2 linked regions of the Homo sapiens genome follow. The protein of the gene in region 1 purifies or fractionates together with the protein of each later gene. This does not show direct contact. Each region holds a gene or a part of one and is shown in the gene's direction. Other genes may lie near its edges.

What was found.
Region 2: the proteins of SNX15 (region 1) and NT5C2 purify together in Homo sapiens (affinity purification with mass spectrometry; 2 studies listed by BioGRID and IntAct, with this or other methods). This does not show direct contact.

What each region holds. Positions count from the first base shown.
Region 1 is NC_000011.10:65,037,140-65,041,072, forward strand, and holds the end of SNX15 (sorting nexin-15), read left to right. Parts: intron 1-1,432; coding exon 1,433-1,690; intron 1,691-2,546; coding exon 2,547-2,653; 3' UTR 2,654-3,433; downstream 3,434-3,933. UniProt on the Homo sapiens protein: May be involved in several stages of intracellular trafficking. Overexpression of SNX15 disrupts the normal trafficking of proteins from the plasma membrane to recycling endosomes or the TGN.
Region 2 is NC_000010.11:103,098,980-103,106,278, reverse strand, and holds part of NT5C2 (cytosolic purine 5'-nucleotidase), read left to right. Parts: intron 1-477; coding exon 478-573; intron 574-897; coding exon of another isoform or gene 898-921; intron 922-4,952; coding exon 4,953-5,044; intron 5,045-5,176; coding exon 5,177-5,234; intron 5,235-5,314; exon of another isoform or gene 5,315-5,527; intron 5,528-5,597; exon of another isoform or gene 5,598-5,616; intron 5,617-6,259; coding exon 6,260-6,353; intron 6,354-7,294; coding exon 7,295-7,299. UniProt on the Homo sapiens protein: Broad specificity cytosolic 5'-nucleotidase that catalyzes the dephosphorylation of 6-hydroxypurine nucleoside 5'-monophosphates.

The sequences.
Region 1 (3,933 bases):
AGTCCCTGCTGGGCAGCTAGCTGCCTGGGCAGGAGCTTTTCTATTTTTTTTCCTCTCCTTTTTAATTTTTTTATTTTTTTTTATTTATTTTTTGAGACAGAGTCTGGCTCTGTCACCAGGCTAGAGGGCAGTGGTGCGATCACGGCTCACTGCAGCCTCCAACTCCTAGGCTTAAGCGATCCTCCCACCTCAGCCTCCCAAATAGCTGGGACAGGACCACAGGCATGCACCATCATGCCCAGCTAAGTTTTTGATTTTTTGTAGAGATGAGATCTCACTATGTTGCCCAGGCTGGTCTCAAGCTCCTGGACTCAAGTAGTCCTCCCACCTCAGCCTCCCAAAGTGCTGGATCATAGGCATGAGTGACTGTGTCCAGCCAGGATCTTTTCAAGACCCTTCACAGACAGCTCCAATGAGACATTCACTCAGCCCATGGGAAAAGTCCCCAAAGCCTGGAACTGCAGTGTGCTCAGACACTGCCTTATTTCCCTACCCTGCCATGGTGGGCACCTCCAACAAGCCTCTCACCACCAGAATTCTCGAGGCAAGGAGTGGGCACCTGTGTCTCCCTTCTTCACAGCAAACTCCTTAACTCGAGTGTGCAGGTGTCCCAGGTACTCTTCTGCTCTCTGCTCCCTGAGCAATACATGGAGGGCTGTAGGCCCAGCCAGGAGGTGCCTTCTCCCTCCTGCAGGAGGCCCGGACTTCTCAGGGCTCTCATGGAACTCACAGGGATGGGGTTAGAGAGGCACCCACTTTTTCCCTCTCCAGGATGATAGGGTATCATGATGCTTCCTGCCCCCGCACCTTCCCCTCAGAGGCCTTTTCACCAAAGGTGCACCAGATTTCCAGTCGCCTCGTGTGTAAGCTGCAGGTAGGATGTCCGACCCCCTTTTAGCCAGTCCAGGGGGATATAATGAGCCTTTACCTGGGAAATGTGAGGACACCTGTCACTCACTGTCTTTACATTTGGGGGCCTCAGCTGAAACTGCAAGGCTTCAGAAAACCCCTGAGATTCTCTAAGTCTCCTATTCTAAGATTATTCCAAGTCTTGGAGCATTTCTACCCTCAGCCTGGTGGTGGTGGCCTAGCATCCTTCAGGGAAACTTTCTGGAGGGGATTTTTGGATTTCTAGGTCAACTGGAGTCAAGAGGGAAATAGGACCAGTGACCCAGAGCTTACAAACTAGAGTGTGTACCTAAAGACATAATTAGGAAGGTAAGGCTGTTTTTACAGAAGCACATGAACCCTATCGATCAAATAGCTCATGGCTAGTTTTTGATCCACAGACGACTTCTGGATTGCTCTGGCATTGGTCCCCTCTACTGGGGACAGGCTGATACCCTGATGGACAAAAGAAGTCTTGGGGTTGGGCAGAGGGCCTGGGAAAGGAAGGGCCAGTCTGGTCCGAGTCCTCCCTTTCTAACTGCAGAAGGCGCAGCCCCCAGCCCCACCCATGTGGCTGAGCTGGCAACGATGGAGGTGGAGTCTGCAAGGCTGGACCAGGAACCCTGGGAGCCAGGAGGGCAGGAGGAGGAAGAGGATGGGGAAGGAGGGCCCACCCCTGCCTACCTAAGCCAGGCCACAGAGCTCATCACCCAGGCCCTGCGGGATGAGAAGGCAGGCGCTTACGCTGCTGCACTCCAGGGCTATCGAGACGGCGTGCACGTCTTGCTTCAGGGAGTCCCCAGTGAGTAGGGACTGAGGGTGGAGGGTCAGGCCTGGGTCCCAGGTGGGGCAGTGATGAAGGGAGCAAAAAAACAAGCAAATCACGGATCAGGAGCCCTTTTACTCCTCACTGACCAGCTGTGTAACCTGGGCAGATTTTTGTTTCTGTTTTTTTGTTGTTGTTGTTTTTAACCTCTTGTGGCCTCAGTTTTCTTCTTCCTCTTTTTTTTTTTTTTTTTTTGAGACAGAGTCTTGCTCTTGTTGCAGGCTGGAGTGCACAATCTCGGCTCACTGCAACCTCCGCCCCCCAGGTTCAAGTGATTCTACTGCCTCAGCCTCCCGACTAGCTGGGATTACAGGCGCCCACCACCATGCCTGGCTAATTTTTGAATTTTTATTTTTTATTTATTTTTATTTATTTATTTTTATTTTTTGAGACAGAGTCTCGCTCTGTCGCCCAGGCTGGAGTGCAGTGGCACAATCTTGGCTCACTGCAACCTCCACCTCCCAGGTTCAAGCCATTCTCCTGCCTCAGCCTCCTGAGTAGCTGGGATTACAGGCACGTGCCACCACGCCCAGCGAATTTTTGTAGTTTTAGTAGAGATGGGCTTTCACCATGTTGGTCAGGCTGGTCTCGAACCCCTGACCTCGTGATCCACCCACCTCGGCCTCCCAAAGTGCTGGGATTACAGGCGTGAGCCACCGCGCCCAGCATGGCCTCAGTTTTCTTATTTGTAGACTGAGGAGAATGGATGCTGGGCCCCAGAGAGGAGGGAAAAGCACATGGTGATGCTCTGCGAATTGTAAAGGACCCGACCAGGGGTTCTGACCAGGCCAGTGGTGCCCAGGTGCCTCAGCTGAGCATTCTCTCTCCACAGGTGACCCGTTGCCTGCCCGCCAGGAAGGTGTGAAGAAGAAGGCAGCTGAGTACCTGAAGCGGGCAGAGGAGATCCTGCGCCTGCACCTGTCTCAACTCCCACCCTAACAGGGAGTGGGCCATTCCCTGGGACTCTCGCTCCTGCACTGCCAGCCCCTTCTCCTCTCCCCAGGGCCTGGCCCTACCTCCTGGTCTTGTAATTACAGGAGCCATTTCTGTAGGTAACTGGACCAAGAATGAGAAAAATAATGAATTCTTAGCTCCCTGATTACACCTGCCACCTTGGAATCAAGGACTCACACTTCTGACCCTGCCTGTCTTTTTGGGGTTTTTTTGAGTTGGAGTCTCGCTGTGTCGCCCAGACTGGAGTGCAGTGGTGGGATCGCGGCTCACTGCAACCTCCACCTCCCAGGTTCAAGCAGTTCTCCTGTCTCAGCCTCCCCAGTAGCTGAGATTGCAGGCACATGCCACCACGCCCAGCTAATATTTTGTATTTTCAGTAGGGACGGGGTTACACCATGTTGGCCAGGCTGGTCTCGAACTCCTGACCTCAAGTGATCCACCCGCCTCAGTCTCCCAAAGTGCTGAGATTACAGGCATGAGTCACTACGCCCGGCCCATGTCTGTCTGTCTTGATGTGTGAGCAGCAGCTGTGGTCATTAAACCATTAGTTTACCCCTCTAGAACTGGGGTCTGCAAACTCCCACCTGCAGCCAAATCTGGCCCACCTCCTTTTTAATGTAAGGGCTGTGAGAGTGGTTTTTACTTTTTTTAATGATTAAAAAAATCAAAATAATATTCTGTGACAATGACAGGTGAAATTTATATGTGACAAGTGAAAATTATATGAAATTTAAGAGTCCATAAATAAAATTTGTTGGAACACAACCAGGCTAATTCATTTAGTATTGTGATAGCTGCTTTCGCGCTACACTGGCAGTTGAAACAGTTGCAGAGTTGAGTCTTTGCCGCCTGCAAATCCCAAAACATTTACAACCTGGCCCTTTGCAGAAAACATTTGCTGGCCCCTGAGCTAGAAAATAGGGAGCATAGTCTCAGGGAAATAGAGGACAAGCCGATGGAGCCGGTTTATTGGGTGGAAGGGACGAAGGAGAGGAACCCAAAGCCCGGGTACTTGTCTCAGAGGCCCCAAAGCCAAATCCTGATTGCTCAGCGGGCTGGAAGGCGTGGCCTCAGCCCCGCCCCGCCCCGCCTCACCACAAAGCGGTTGGTTGCGGCAGGGACTACACCGGTGTATCATGGGAGCGGCCCGGGCTACACGTTAAAAACACTAAGGGGAGCGCGCGAAGCTGAACTTGGCGCTCGATGGGGGCCGTTAGCCGCCCTAGAGCGCGCGGAGCCGCAGAGGCGTAGCTGGACTACAACGC
Region 2 (7,299 bases), on another chromosome or scaffold:
TAGGTACGTGTTTCTCTAATACACTTAACATGATAGAAGCTTGGCAGTTTCCATTTCTGGATTTGATAGGGAATATTTAAGATTAAGAAAATGATGTTTGAGATGCTATCATATATATCCCACATACAGCATCTAATGGAGAAAAATATAAGCCTTCTCAGTTGTCCAAGAAAAAAGACTATGTTTTAGAATGGTACCAGCTGTGTAGTAAGAAGAATGTTTTTTATACCTTGTTTGATTAAGCACTTATTCCTTACAGAAAACAATTATGATTTTCTGTCTGGACGGAGTCAATATTTTTTAGTTGCTTTAGAATTAGTTTTTAAGATTTTACTCACTTTAGCTATATTAGGACATACTTTGAGTTGGTACAAAGCTTGAATTAAATGAGGTTGGTTCATGATGATTAAATACTACTACATAAAATTATTGCCTGTATTACTTTGCATTATCAATAATGTCTTCATTTTCACATAGGGGACTTGTCTTTGACACACTGTATGGAAATCTTTTGAAAGTCGATGCCTATGGAAACCTCTTGGTCTGTGCACATGGATTTAACTTTATAAGGGGGTGAGTACAGAGAACCTTTAGCCTCTTTCTAATGTTAAAGTCAAACAATGTGAAGATGACATCATCTCCCCAGATGTAATATATTTCCCTATTACTTTTCATCATTAAAGAGCAAATTCCCTTACATAAGGTTAGTTAACAGTTATTTATTAGGCAGTTGGAACCCAAACTGACATATAGTTAGCAATTACATTTTGTTTAAATTAAGTGCCTTCCAATTATACAGCATACAACAAAACTAATCTTAAAACTTGCCCAGAAGAACTTTAGTAGTTTTGACTTATTTGAAATTCTAAGATTTTTATTTTCTTCTTTCTAATACAGTTCTCAGGTAGCTGTTCAGAAGAGGTATGTATATAAAAATGCTTTGAAAAAATTTTAAACTATAGCAATTTAAATGATTAAGAGATTTTTAATAGCCAATACGTTTTTTAGATTCTAATGAATCTAAACTTTGAATCCTGACATTTGATTGTGTCATTAAAAAAATGTAAACATAAGGTTAAAGTGAATATGTGCTAATAATATTTTAAACAAATAAGAATAAGCTTTATTTTCAAAATAAAAATATTTCCACTATTGTCACTAATTTGAACTTTTTACCCTAGTAAACAGCAGATGAAATTTAGTATCTACTATTTTTTTGTGAAATGTCCCGATATTTTCAAATCATAATGCCACAATTTGACAACTTCTGTAGCTATAGCTTTACTGTTATACATTTTCTCTACTGTTATGCCACCTTATTTACTATTGACATTGTATTAAGGTCAGAACAACAGCTCGTAAAACCAGAATAGGATGTGTGTCAGTCTCTTATGTAACTTTTCCATTTACTATTCATTCTTGATGGCAGAATAGGAAAAACACCAGGCTACATTGAAATGTTTAAAAAGACAATGTCTTTTTTTGTGATAAGAGGCACAAACCAACTGTAATTGTACCAGAGCTTCCTTTAGATTTGAGGTCACAGGATGCCCCTTAGAATTGAAGCATCTAAGACTCTTTAGTTGGCATTACTGACATTACACAGGCTCAGAGATTTCCATGTATACATGAGAACGGTGTGAAGTAAACACCCATCTTGACACATCTGAGCAGGCCAGTGATTACATCCACATTTCTTTCACTGTTTCTTTCATGAGGGGGTTTGTTCAGGATCCATGAAAATATCAGGAAACAGGATTTAGAATATGAAGTAATTACAGGTTGTACTAGTAACTTAAGCTATTTTATACACAGATATTGTCATCATAACTCAGAATCTCAATGAAGATGAACCAGGGTTCTATTATGTCTAAAAAGGAATTTTTGTATTATAAGGGAGGGGTAGGCAGAGAAGAAAAGAGAAGCAGTTGGATAAGTTAGTACTACGATCAAATTTCCAACTCAAGATCCACAGACTTCCTCTCTTCCCTTAAATAAGCCAATAAAGTTTCCACATAGCTCCTTTGCTAATGCATTTAATAGTGTTTCAAAAATAAGTCATTTATGAGTAAATGCAGAATCATTCAAATAGCACTTAGCACTGTGCAGTCTTTAGAGTTAAACAGAAAAGCTGGCCAGGCACAGTGGCTTACGCCTATAATCTCAGCACTTTGGGAGGACAAGGCAAGAAGACTTCTTGAGCCTAGGAGACCAGCCTGGACAATAAAGTGAAACCCTATCTCTACAAATATCAAAAATTAGCTGGGCATGGTGGTACATGCCTTTGGTCCCAGCTATATGGGAGACTGAGGCAGGAGGAGTGCTTGAGCCCAGGAGGTTGAGGCTGCAGTGAGCTGTGTTGGTGCCACTGTAGTACAGCCTGTGTAACAGAGCAAGACCCTATCTCAAAAAAATAAAAATAAATTAATAAAATTAAAATTCCCATGAAAAGAAGAGACTGAAGATAGAGGGAAAGAAAGTTATCGAAGCTATTACAGTGGTAGACAAGGCTGGAAAAGAAGGACTCCATCAGGCTTTGCTAATGAGTTAGGACCTTATTTTTTGATAAATTTTTATTCTGTGGGTCACAGAAAGTTAGTAGTAATCTGTGCTGTAACTGTTTTCTTCCCATTCCAAGTGTAGCATTTCTTTTATGATATATTACCTCCCCCAAATTGATTTTTATTTTAAATATATACTAGTGTGATTTGACACTGAAGTTTACAATGTAATTGCTAACTATATTTATAAATCAATTTGGGTTCTAACTGCCTAATAAATGTTAACCATCTTTATGTAAAGGAATTTTTCTTTAATGATGGAGGGAATAGGGAAGTATATTGTATCTAAGGAGACAGTGTCAGCTTATTAAATCTAACTGAAGAAAGTATATTTTTACTGTTACCTTCCACCTTACTTTTATTAAAGAAAATCTTGGAAAGCTAGAAGATAAGATACTCTACAAAGTTATTCATTATTGGGAACTCTCATCTCAGAAGAGTGACTTAAGACAGGGAGCTAATGTGATTTTTATATGTCTAACTAGAGTTTATGCCATTTGTAGTTAACAAACCCAGGCAGGAATTAATCCAGGTCACTCTGAGTGTGAGCTTTAAATTTGATTTCCTTTATTTACATTGTTAATCTCCATGTATTCACTGTCAGAACTGTGCATTTTTATATTTTAGTATTTTTCCCTTTGAGTTTCTCTGAAATGTTTTCTTCTAGAAGTGTTTTTGCATCTTTAACAAATTCTGCTTCACTGGCTTTTTTCTTTTAAACCTTGAATTTTCTTCATGGTTCTGTTCTGTCTCTTCTCTTCCTTCTCTGCACACTAAGTGGTTTCATCTCCTCTAATACTTTTCATGATTCCATCTAGTATCTGTACGTAGATGATCTCAGTTATCTCTCAAGGCTGAATCTCTTTTAAGTTCTTGACCTTTGTTTCTAATTGCCTAATAAAAATCAGTTTACTTCAAACTTAGTATCACTAAAATAGAACTACTCTCACATCACTTCTTATCTAGTTTTCATATTTCTGTTCATCGTACCAACCACCTCTCAGAGACACCTTAGCATGGACATCATCATCTTTGACTCTTTAATGTTCCCCCAGCCAAATCTGCTCAGTTTGCCGGGTCTTATTTTACCTTGGTAATCTCTCTTGAATATATGAGTGAGCTGAGATCACGCCACTGCACTCCAGCCTGGCCGACAGAGTGAGACTCTGTCTCAAAAAAAAAAAAAGAAAAAAGAAAAAATTCTGAGAGTCAACTGGGTGATTCTGGGTTGCACAGCTGATCTCTCTATGCTCTTTCACATGTCTGTGGTTAGCTGGTGGGTGACCTGGCATCTGATCTACAATGGCCTCATGCACATGTCTGGCATTCACAGGCTGTTGGCCGAGTGCTTCATTTCTACATGTAGCCTTCTATCCTCCAGCAGACTATCTCACTGTCATGCACATAGTAGTCCATGGTTCCAAGTGCTGCAAGAGAGATTAAGCCTCAATACACACATGTTTTTCTAGGTCTCTGCTTGGATCCCATTTGCTGCTATACAAGCCTATATTCAAGGATAGAGAAATAGACTGAGTTCTAATGGGAGGAGCCACAAAATTGCATCACAAAGAGACAGGAAGAATTTGTGGCCATTGTTGGAGTGCATCACATTGTCTTTCCCCAGTTTATCCTAAAACAGCCACTAATTTAATTTTGTTTTACAACTCAGCCCCGATGGGATTATCCTCTGCTTTAAAACTGTCAGTAGTACCCTCTTGCCCCTAAATGGTGTAGAAACAGTAGCTTAATCTGCCTCAACCCATCTTTCTAGCTTAATTTTTCTCTGCTCCCCTTTCTCTACCCAAGTTGGACTAGTTTCACAACTGGTCCACCTAGCCTTTAAGGCCCAGCTCATATACCAGCACGTGCATGAATCCTTCCTAGATTTTCCTCTCCTTAGTCCTCACATTTGCTTCTCTCTACCTCTTAAGTTGAAATGGTGTTCCCTTCTTTGGTTTTCTCATAAATGTTTGCACCTTTCTTGTAGTAGTTGTGATTTTTTACCTTATAATTATATGTGTATGTGACCCACCTCGCCCACCACACTGACAACTCTTTTAAGAGCTGGAACCTAAGCTGGACATCACACCTGTAATCCCAGCTACTTGGGAGGCTGAGGTGGGAAGATTGCTTGAGCAATCTTCAGGAGTTTGAGTCCAGCCTGGACTTAAAATAGCAAGACTGTCTTAAAAAAAAAAAAAAATTAAAATTAAAAAAAATAAAGAGCTGGAACCTGAACTCGTTCATCTTCATAGCTATCCATGCGTAATATTCGGAATTCTGTCTTGCACATAGCCATCAAAATATTTGAGTTAATTTTTGAATAATGCTATTTCCCAATTATTATAATGTTATTTTAAAAATCAGTTAATTTTTAAATTTTTCTTTCAGACCAGAAACTAGAGAACAGTATCCAAATAAATTTATCCAGCGAGATGATACTGAAAGATTTTACATTCTGAACACACTATTCAACCTACCAGGTAGATTCATTCTATGCTTATTTATACTGATGCTTTCCCTTCTGTGACCATTAGTCTGTATTCAAGGGAGGTAATGAAATAAGTTTGAATTATTTCATTATAGCTTATGAATATCTGTTCTTCATTTTTCAGAGACCTACCTGTTGGCCTGCCTAGTAGATTTTTTTACTAATTGTCCCAGATATACCAGGTATGTATATACTATAATTATTTTTTTCCAATTGATTTTTAAAATTAATGCACAGGGTTTTAGAGAACTGGCCATTGTAGGTCTTTTCTGCTTTTCTAAAGTGAATTTAGTGCTAGTGAGAGATGCCACATTGCCAACCTGAGAGATGGGACAGCACCAGCAGCTCCATGCAGGCTCTCACCTCCCACACGGCCCCTCTCCTTGCCAGTGTGCTGCAGCCACCACTTCTGATTGGCTTCTCCTGGGAATGAAGACGGCCAGCAGAGGTGCTAATTGTGACAACTGAGTGGGAGGTTTGTGTGATGATTATCTGTCCAAGCAGAATTACACTAAAACCCCCCAACTCATTTCACAGCAGCTACCCAGGAGCCATTCAGGGATGGTAATTTAATTTCATTCCCAGGCCAGGCAAGATTTGATTAAGGAATAAATACTGTGTATCTTATCAGAAGTAAAATTTTGCGTAAGTCTTAAACAAGTTATCCTCTCCCTTTAGGGAGAATTATATAGCCAATACTGAAAGTTTAGCCATCTATATACCAGAGTTGGCTAACTTCTTATCCTCTTTGGGCTTTATCCACTTGAAGACACTAAATTTGGTGGAAAGCTGAGTCACTGAACTAAATAAAAAAATGGACAGTACCTTTGTACTTAGGGACAGTGTCAGGAAAGTCAGGGTGGAAAGAACCTAAATGACCAATTTTAAGTTTTAAATGTTTCTTCAACCTGTTTCTAAAAAGTGATAAATAAAAAAACCTGACATTTTTGGAACTTTGGCCTTTTAGCTTCCATTCAATATATTCTTCTATCACTTTGTATTTGTTCACAATTACTGTATTCCATTGAACACTATAGCCATTTCTGGTGGTCAAAGTGGACTTTCATTAGGGAGTAATTATTTTCCTCATTAGCCACAGCCTTTACCCATGTGATATGGAACCTTTGGGTCCCCTGGGAAATTTTTGATATATATTTTGTTTACCCTGTTTTGGATCCCCTGTCATGTTATTTTTATCTTTCTGTAGTTGTGAAACAGGATTTAAAGATGGGGACCTCTTCATGTCCTACCGGAGTATGTTCCAGGATGTAAGAGATGCTGTTGACTGGGTTCATTACAAGGTACCTAGAAGCTGTTTCTTCACCTGCTTGCTTTCTGGCATGTATTTTATGGCGTGGCATTAACTTTCCAAATGGAGCAGAATATTTCTTTTTTTAAAAAAAGAAAAAACAGATTTGCCCCCGCCTAGTGATAGCCCTCTAGAATACATTTGTTCTTGTCTTTGGTCTCGGTGGTAATGTTGATCTTTCCTCAGTGATGGTGTTTGGCTTCTGGATTTTATTTTAGTTTGCATTTCTCAAACTTAGAAGAGGTTTTAGTGTATTACATTATACTTAACATATCCTTTGTGGATGACAGTGGTCCATTTTTTTTGTCCAGATACCTCCCACCCGACTAATAACATTAATAAATATTAAATTTACATGTATTATAAACTATTGAATAAAATATGAAATGCCTTTTAATTTCAAACTTAAAATAGAAACTGTTTTATATTTTGAAGACAAATTTTAGAGGCAGGGTTGCAGCAAATCATACCTGCTACTTTTTTCTGGCCTTCTCTAGTTTGTCCACTTTTCCATTTTGGTAAATCCTTAAGAAATGCATTTGGGGCTGGGCATGATGGCTCATGCCTGTAATCCCAGCACTTTGTGATGCCAAGGCAGGTGGATTGCTTGAGCTCAGGAGTTCAAGACTAGCCTGGGCAACATGACAAAACCCTGTCTGTACAAGAAATACAGAAAATTAGCCAGGCATGTTGGTGTGGACCTGTGGTCCTAGCTACTTGGGAGGCTGAAGTGGGAGGATCACCTGAGCCTGGGGAGGTCGAGGCTGCAGTGAGCTGAGATTGTACCACTGCACTCTAGCATGGGCAACAGGGTGACCTTGTCTCAAAAAAAGAAAGGATTTGGGTTGATTAGTAAAAACCATTTTTCTTATAAACTACATGTTAAAAACTGATTTTGTTCTTTTCTTAATTCTTTTTTTTGTCTTCCTCCAGGGCTC